Linked DNA regions of Homo sapiens. The protein of the gene in region 1 interacts with the protein of each later gene in a pairwise test. Each region holds a gene or a part of one and is shown on either strand. Other genes may lie near its edges.

Evidence for each region. The genes of interacting proteins can lie anywhere in the genome.
Region 2: the proteins of PRPF3 (region 1) and SMNDC1 interact in binary tests that used the Homo sapiens proteins (3 or more experiments, as listed by UniProt).

What each region holds. Positions count from the first base shown.
Region 1 is NC_000001.11:150,349,033-150,352,532, reverse strand, and holds part of PRPF3 (U4/U6 small nuclear ribonucleoprotein Prp3), read right to left. Parts: intron 3,377-3,500; coding exon 3,315-3,376; intron 1-3,314. UniProt on the Homo sapiens protein: Plays a role in pre-mRNA splicing as component of the U4/U6-U5 tri-snRNP complex that is involved in spliceosome assembly, and as component of the precatalytic spliceosome (spliceosome B complex).
Region 2 is NC_000010.11:110,298,421-110,301,920, reverse strand, and holds part of SMNDC1 (survival of motor neuron-related-splicing factor 30), read left to right. Parts: intron 1-1,184; exon of another isoform or gene 1,185-1,371; coding exon of another isoform or gene 1,372-1,374; intron 1,375-3,130; coding exon 3,131-3,273; intron 3,274-3,500. UniProt on the Homo sapiens protein: Involved in spliceosome assembly.

The DNA of each region.
Region 1 (3,500 bases):
CTACCACGCCCAGCTGATTTTTTGTATTTCTAGTAGAGACGGGGTTTCACCGTGTTAGCCAGGATGGTCTCGATCTCCTGACCTCGTGATCCTCCCGCCTCAGCCTCCCAAAGTGCTGGGATTATAGGCGTGAGCCACCGCGCCCGGCCTCCTTGGATATTTGTATGAGATTTTACGAATTCATATGCATAAGGCTTTTAGTTTTTTGAAATGAAGTGAGGAATTATTTGCTCTGGTGCCTGGGTGGAACAGCAAGTCAGGAAGAACTATGGAAGGTGGAATGAGATAAACTTATCTCCTACCAGGCCTTAAGGACTAAATCTGAGCCTTCAAAAAGGCCCCAGAAACTATTTATATAAGCAGGAGGCTTTGGGGCCCAGCAACAAAGAACAACTGGGGGCGGGGAACAGAAGAAGAGCAGGTACCAGCAGAGAATTACAACAGAAAAAGACAGTACTGGGCAGAATGGCATTCTTGCCAAAGTTACCAGCAGCAATGGCAGTCATAAAGCAATACCTCAAGAGGCGTTCAGGGAGTAGACTCCAATAAGGAGGCTGGAGCAGAACTTGGCTTATTTCTGAACATGAGAGACAATTCCTGAAAACTAAATTCCTACAACATTAATACTGGTTCTCTAAGAAGCCGGGACTTTTTCAGTAAGTACTCTTCAGAGATAAATAGAAGAAAATTGAAAGATGAGGGTGCTGAGATATGTGAAGGTAGGGCTGGGCACAGTAGCTCATGCCTATAATCCCAGCACTTTGGGAGGCTGAGGTGGGAGGATCACTCAAGGCTAAGAGTTCAAGACAAGCCTAGGCAACATAGTGAGATCCATTTCTAAAAAAAAAAAAAAAAAAAAAAAAAATTAGCCAGGCACAGTGGTGTGGACCTGAGGTCTCAGATACTTGAGAAGCTGAGACTGGAGGATTGCTTGTCCCTAGGAGTTCAAGGCTGTAGCGAGCTATGACTGCGCCACTGCACACCAGCCTGAGCAATAGAGCAAGACCCTATCTCTAAAAAAAAAAGTTGATTAAAAAAAGATAACAAATATGCAGGTGGGAACTTATAAAACAGAGAACAAATACTATGGTTATTATCATCTAATTTGTATGCATAAATTGAAGAATCTGGGATAAGGCAGGATACATGAAAACCTTTTTTTTTAATTTTTATTTTTTGATTGCTCCTTCAGAAGAAAAACTATTAATAGCAATTACCTATAAAGACTGGTCTGAAGAGATCAGCGAATAGGAAGAGACTTTTGTTTTGAGACACAGTCTCGCACTGTCACCCAGGCTGGAGTGCAATGGTGCGATCTCGGCTCACTGCAACCTCCGCTTCCCAGATTCAAGCGATTCTCCTGCCTCAGCCTCCCAAGTAGCTGGGATTATAGGCACTGGCCACCACGCCCCACTAATTTTTGTATTTTTAGTAGAGACTGGGTTTCACCATGTTGGCCAGGTTAGTCTCGAATTCCTGACCTCGTAATCCGCCCACCTCAGCCTCCCAAAGTGTTGGGAGTATAGGCATGAGCCACTGCACCTGGCCTGAGACTTTTTCTTTTTTTTTTTTAAGACAGGGTTTCACTCTGGTGCCCAGGCTGGAGTGCAGTGGCATAGTCACAGCTCACTGCAGCTTCAAACTCCAAAGCTGAAGCAATCTTCCCACCTCAGCCTCTCAAGTAGCTGGGACTACAGGCAGACGCCACCAGGCCAGGCTAATTTTTGTATTTTTTGTAGAGACGGGGTTTCGCCATATTGCCCAGGCTGGTCTTGAACTCCTGAGCTCAAGTGATCCAACCACCTCATCCTCCCAAAGTGCTGGGATTATAGGCGTGAGCCACTGTGCTGGGTCTCAGTAAGTACTCTTCTGTATAATTAGAATTTGTTTCTAATCTTAATAAACATTTACTACTTTTGTAATAATGTACCACTTTTATAATAAAGAATTCATTAATAGAAATAAGCACATTTTACTGCTCGCTTCAGCAGCACATATACTAGAAATAAGCACATTTTAAAAATAGAAGATATATGGCCGGGCGCAGTGACTCATGCCTGTAATCCCAGCACTTTGGGAGGCCAAGGCAGTCGGACCTCAGGTCAGGAGTTCGAGACCAGCTTGACCAATATGGCGAAACCCCGTCTCTACTAAAAATACAAAATTAGCCAGGCGTGGTGGCTCATGCCTGTAATTCCAGCTACTCGGGAGGCCGAGGCAGGAGAATCACTTGAACCCAGGAGGCGGTGGTTGCGGTGAGCTGAGATTGCACCATTGCACTCCAGCCTGGGTAACAAGGGCAAAACTCTCTCAAAAAAAAAAAAAAAGAAATGGAGGGGCTGGGCACAGTGGCTCATGCCTGTAATCCCAGCACTTTGGGAGGCCGAGGCAGGCGGATCACCTGAGGTTGGGAGTTCAAGACCAGCCTGACCAACATGGAGAAACCCTGTCTCTACTATAAATACAAAAATTAGTCGGGCATGGTGGCGTGCACCTGTAATCCCAGCTACTTGGGAGGCTGAGGCAGGAGAATCGTTTGAACCTGGGAGGTAGAGGTTGCGGTGAGCCGAGATCACGCCATCGCACTCCAGCCTGGGCAACAAGAGCAACAAGAGCGAAACTCCATACCGCCCCCCGCCCCCCCGCCCCCAAAAAAAGATATACATGTACTATACCTAAAAGCAAACATGAAAACATTAATACTGGTTTTAATACTGGTTCTCTAAGAAGGCTTCAGGGGTTAAAGAACTAGATAACCATAAAAAATATTCCACTTGAAGAGTGATTCAGTCACATTTTATGAAGCACTATCACATAATTATCTAATTTCATTCTCAAAAACTTGACAATATAGAGAACAATAGCTAAGGCAACAGAATTTGACATTAAGTGTCTTGCCCAGATTGCACAGCTAATAAGCAGCACTGCCCAGCCTCCTAACTTTATATTCTTAAGTCTAGTACTTCCTTCACTATATCCAAAGGTAAATCCAACAACAATTCATTCCCGTTTCCAAGTCTCATATTCATGACTGTGAAATAAATAATTTTCGGTAGAGAATTTGTATTCCTGCTACCAGCAGCACTGTCCACGCACTTCCCCAGATAGCATATACTAAATACTCACGAATTTAATTAAACAGATGATCAGGAAGAATTTACTGCCAACCATTTAAAAATGGATTCCAAAAAGAAACATAAATTATTTAAAACATTATTCACTGATTACATCTTACATTCCATTGCTCCACTCAAATAGTATAAATATTCAGGAGTTGGCTAAAGTTTTACAATGTTTTACAAAGGATCACCTACCTCCCAGACTAGTACACATTTGTTGGTTTTCTTCACAGCTTCCTCATCAGACTCCTCATCATCTGGAAGAGAAATCTTGTTACAGACTTAGACTTGAGATTCAGGTTCTAAACAAATAATATTCAAGTCTACCCAAACTCTCTAAAATATTATCACCCTTTTTATGTGTTGGACCAAGTGTTCTCT
Region 2 (3,500 bases), on another chromosome or scaffold:
TTTCTAGAATAATTCCTCATTAGAGTCTGAGCAGAACTGCCTTACCATGTCATGATCATCATAGTGGAAAGTACTGTAGGGGGAAACCATTGTGATAAACACTGTAGTAAGCCCCTAAAAGGCTTGCTTGCAGGGGTTCAGTTAATAATGACCTGGAAATCATTTTTCTGTAAAGTATCCTCTTTTCTATAACCATTTAAAACAGCACTGTCCAGTAGAACTTTCTGTGATGATGGAAATGTTCTATATCTGCTATTCAGTACCATAGCCACTAGCCACATTTGGTTGGATATTTGAAATACAGCTAGGTTTACTTAGGAGCTGAGTTTTTAGTATAACTTAATTAGCCACACGTGACTACCATACTGGATGGCAAGGATTTAGAAGTGCAAGTTTTAATACTTCAGATAGTAATAACAGAATGTTTTTCCTGACCAGTCTTGATCAGAGTTTCTTCCCATTTTATTCTATCATTAGAAATTTCATTTTGGTCCCTAGATAAGGTCTATTTTGAATTGAAAACTACTCAAAAACGGAAACCATCTTTTAAGATGAGGTAATACTCTGAAAAGTATTTGGCTATAAGCTTCCACTCAGTAATTGTTGTCTCCATTGAGACTACACTTAACAGCTTCTATTTTGCTGTGGGGTTCCCCCCCTCATTCCCCTCCTTTTTCCTTCTCTGCCTTCTGGGATGTATCTCATGCTATGGGTATTTAATTCAGCTTGTTATATTTGGTGAAAAGTCTGTTCAGACTGATTTTGTGGCTTCCTCATATTAATATTTTTTGACCATCATATGGTTTCTAATTTCTTGTGTTCCTCTATAGAATTAGATCCTTATCCCAGTTATTAATTTGTTTGCCCTTTGTTTTATGACAAAATGCTTTTTTTGCATCTTTTCAATGACTTCATTTTGCCAGTAAGGTTTCCATGTTTATCTCTTTCATGTACTGTCTTTCATAGAGACTAAAGTTATTCAGCAGGCAGCAAAATAATCTACTAAAGTCCTGCCTTTCTTTTTTCACTTAAAAAAGTGGGTGTGATAAAATCCAGGCTAGCTAGCTGACTAGCTCCCCGGGCAGTCTATGATAATCAGAGATAGTCAATTTATTAGGCTGTTTTGCTGAATAAGCTGGTTCTAAAGGAGGCAGGGGTCAAGTCACTTGTCTCATATATTACAGTGGCTCTCTGCATCCCCGAAACGCCTTCCTTCAGTAAGCAGAGTGCTTGAGTGCACCCCATTTGACCTGCTGATATGTAGATCACAACACCTGATGCTTCCTGGAATTGCCGATTACTGTAACTGCTGCCCATCTGTCGATGAAGGAGCAGTTTCAGAACTCAGACTTGAGGGAGGAAAAGTAATTAATGGTATGTACCTTCAAGAACCCCCTCATACATAAAATAGTTTTTCTAATACTTTGGTCCATACGCACATGTGAAGAATAGAAATTTAGAAGGTTCTTCATAGTTTGTTGGGAGGGTTATGTAAAACCATGGCAAAGTTAAAGGACATTAGGAGTAAATGCTCTGGATTTTTTCTAAAAAAGGGTCATTTCAGCACAGGCCTCTGAATTCACTAATATGCACAGCTTTTCAGGACCCTTTTCTTTGATGAAATATATTTCTTTAACAAAATATATTTGGAAAACAGTTCTGTCCTAAAAGAAATAGAGTTCTAAATCTGAAACCTACAAGTGCAGAATTCATGTCTGTGCTTAAGTTAAATGATCCCTAGGTGGATCTGGAAGTATTTAATGATAGAGATTTGTGTGGGCTCTTGAGTCAGGCTGACTGGATTACATTCCTACCCCTAAAAGTGGTTAAAAATAAGACCAGATAATTTACTCTTCTGTTGTGTACTACTTGATCTAGTTATTTGGAAGGTTCTTTGCTTTGTTTGCAAAGGACTGTCTAATTAAAAAGATCTAATTAATGGCTAGTTGGCAACTAATAAAACTTAGAGATATTATTCCTACTAAATTTTTAAATCAAACCTAAGTGTTCTATTTATTTATTTATAAAACTAACCTTTCTTCAAGAGATTTAAGACTCAAATATTAGTTTTTTCAGAAATAGCCAGGAAGATTTAGAATCTTTAGGAGAGAGGTAATATTTAACTTTCTTGGCTACTGGAATCAAAATTACTATTATGAAACCTCAGTGGGAACTAGAAGAAACTCAGTACATAGTTTAACTTTGTTAATTTTTCTCCCCAAACACACAGTATGATGTTTTAAATGCAACAATGGGTGAACAGCTATGCAAGTTCTTAGATCAGATAAGATGCATAGTGTGGATCTTCATTAGAGTAACAATATAGTAGACAGGTAGCAGAATCTGTCGGCTTGTACTGTTCTCAATTTTTTAGCCATCCCTACACCAAACATCTTTGAATGAAGCCAATAAATGTAAGCCTGAATTAGAAAAAAATATTTGCCACACAGAAAGGCATTGCCTTTGTGTGTTACCTTTTTTTCCCCCTTTTAAATGAAGCTGTGCTAATGTGCTTAACATTAAGGTATGGAACATTTAAAATCTAACCTGGTAATTTGCTTACCCAGATGGGGTGAGTTTTACAATAATTGAATAGGAAGACCACTGGTTTCTTTTACATTGCCTGTAGTATTTTAGTCGAGATATGTATAAGTAGGAACATTTTTGTTACTAATAAAGCTGCTTAAAGTGTTTTGGGATTGCTTGGCAGTTAATACTGCTGAGTAATGCCCTATAAAACAGTACAGTTGCATAAAATATGTTACAATAAGAGTATCTAATTCAGTGCCTCATACTTGACTTTCTCATCTTTAGAGAGATCTATTCAGCTAAAATAGGCACTTAGAAATAATGCATGGTATAAGCTCAAGTCTTATATTTTCATTAGTATTTGTGGTTAAGTTGAAAGGCAACTATATGGGCTTAAGTCACAGCTCTGCCACTTAACTGGTAGACAATACTGTATCAGTTTCTACATGGGGATAATCACAGTACTTGCTTAATAGTGTTATGAGCTGCAAATGAAATATATGTAGAGTACTTAACGTACAGTATGAAGGCTGTCATCAGAAACTAAGTTGACAATGAGAATTATAAAAATAATGTTGTAGTTTTTGTTTTTCTTTTTTAGGAAGTTATAGAACTAACCAAAGACCTTCTGTCAACTCAACCTTCTGAGACGCTTGCAAGTTCAGACAGTTTTGCTTCTACTCAACCTACTCATTCATGGAAAGTAGGAGACAAGTGTATGGCAGTCTGGAGTGAAGATGGACAGTAAGTGTAGAAAAAAAAACTCTAACTATAACATGAAATAATAAAATACAATGGTAAGAAGTTTTTATTCAGTTTTAACTACCCTATTTTAATCTTGACTTCTATTAGGCAGTATGATTTATAGAGCCAATTTGATTCTTGGGTGGTTGCCATTAATACAGTTTAGTTTTAGCTTTAGATTAAGTTTTGGGGAGAAGAATGGCTGGGATTCTGGAGGAAAGAAAAAC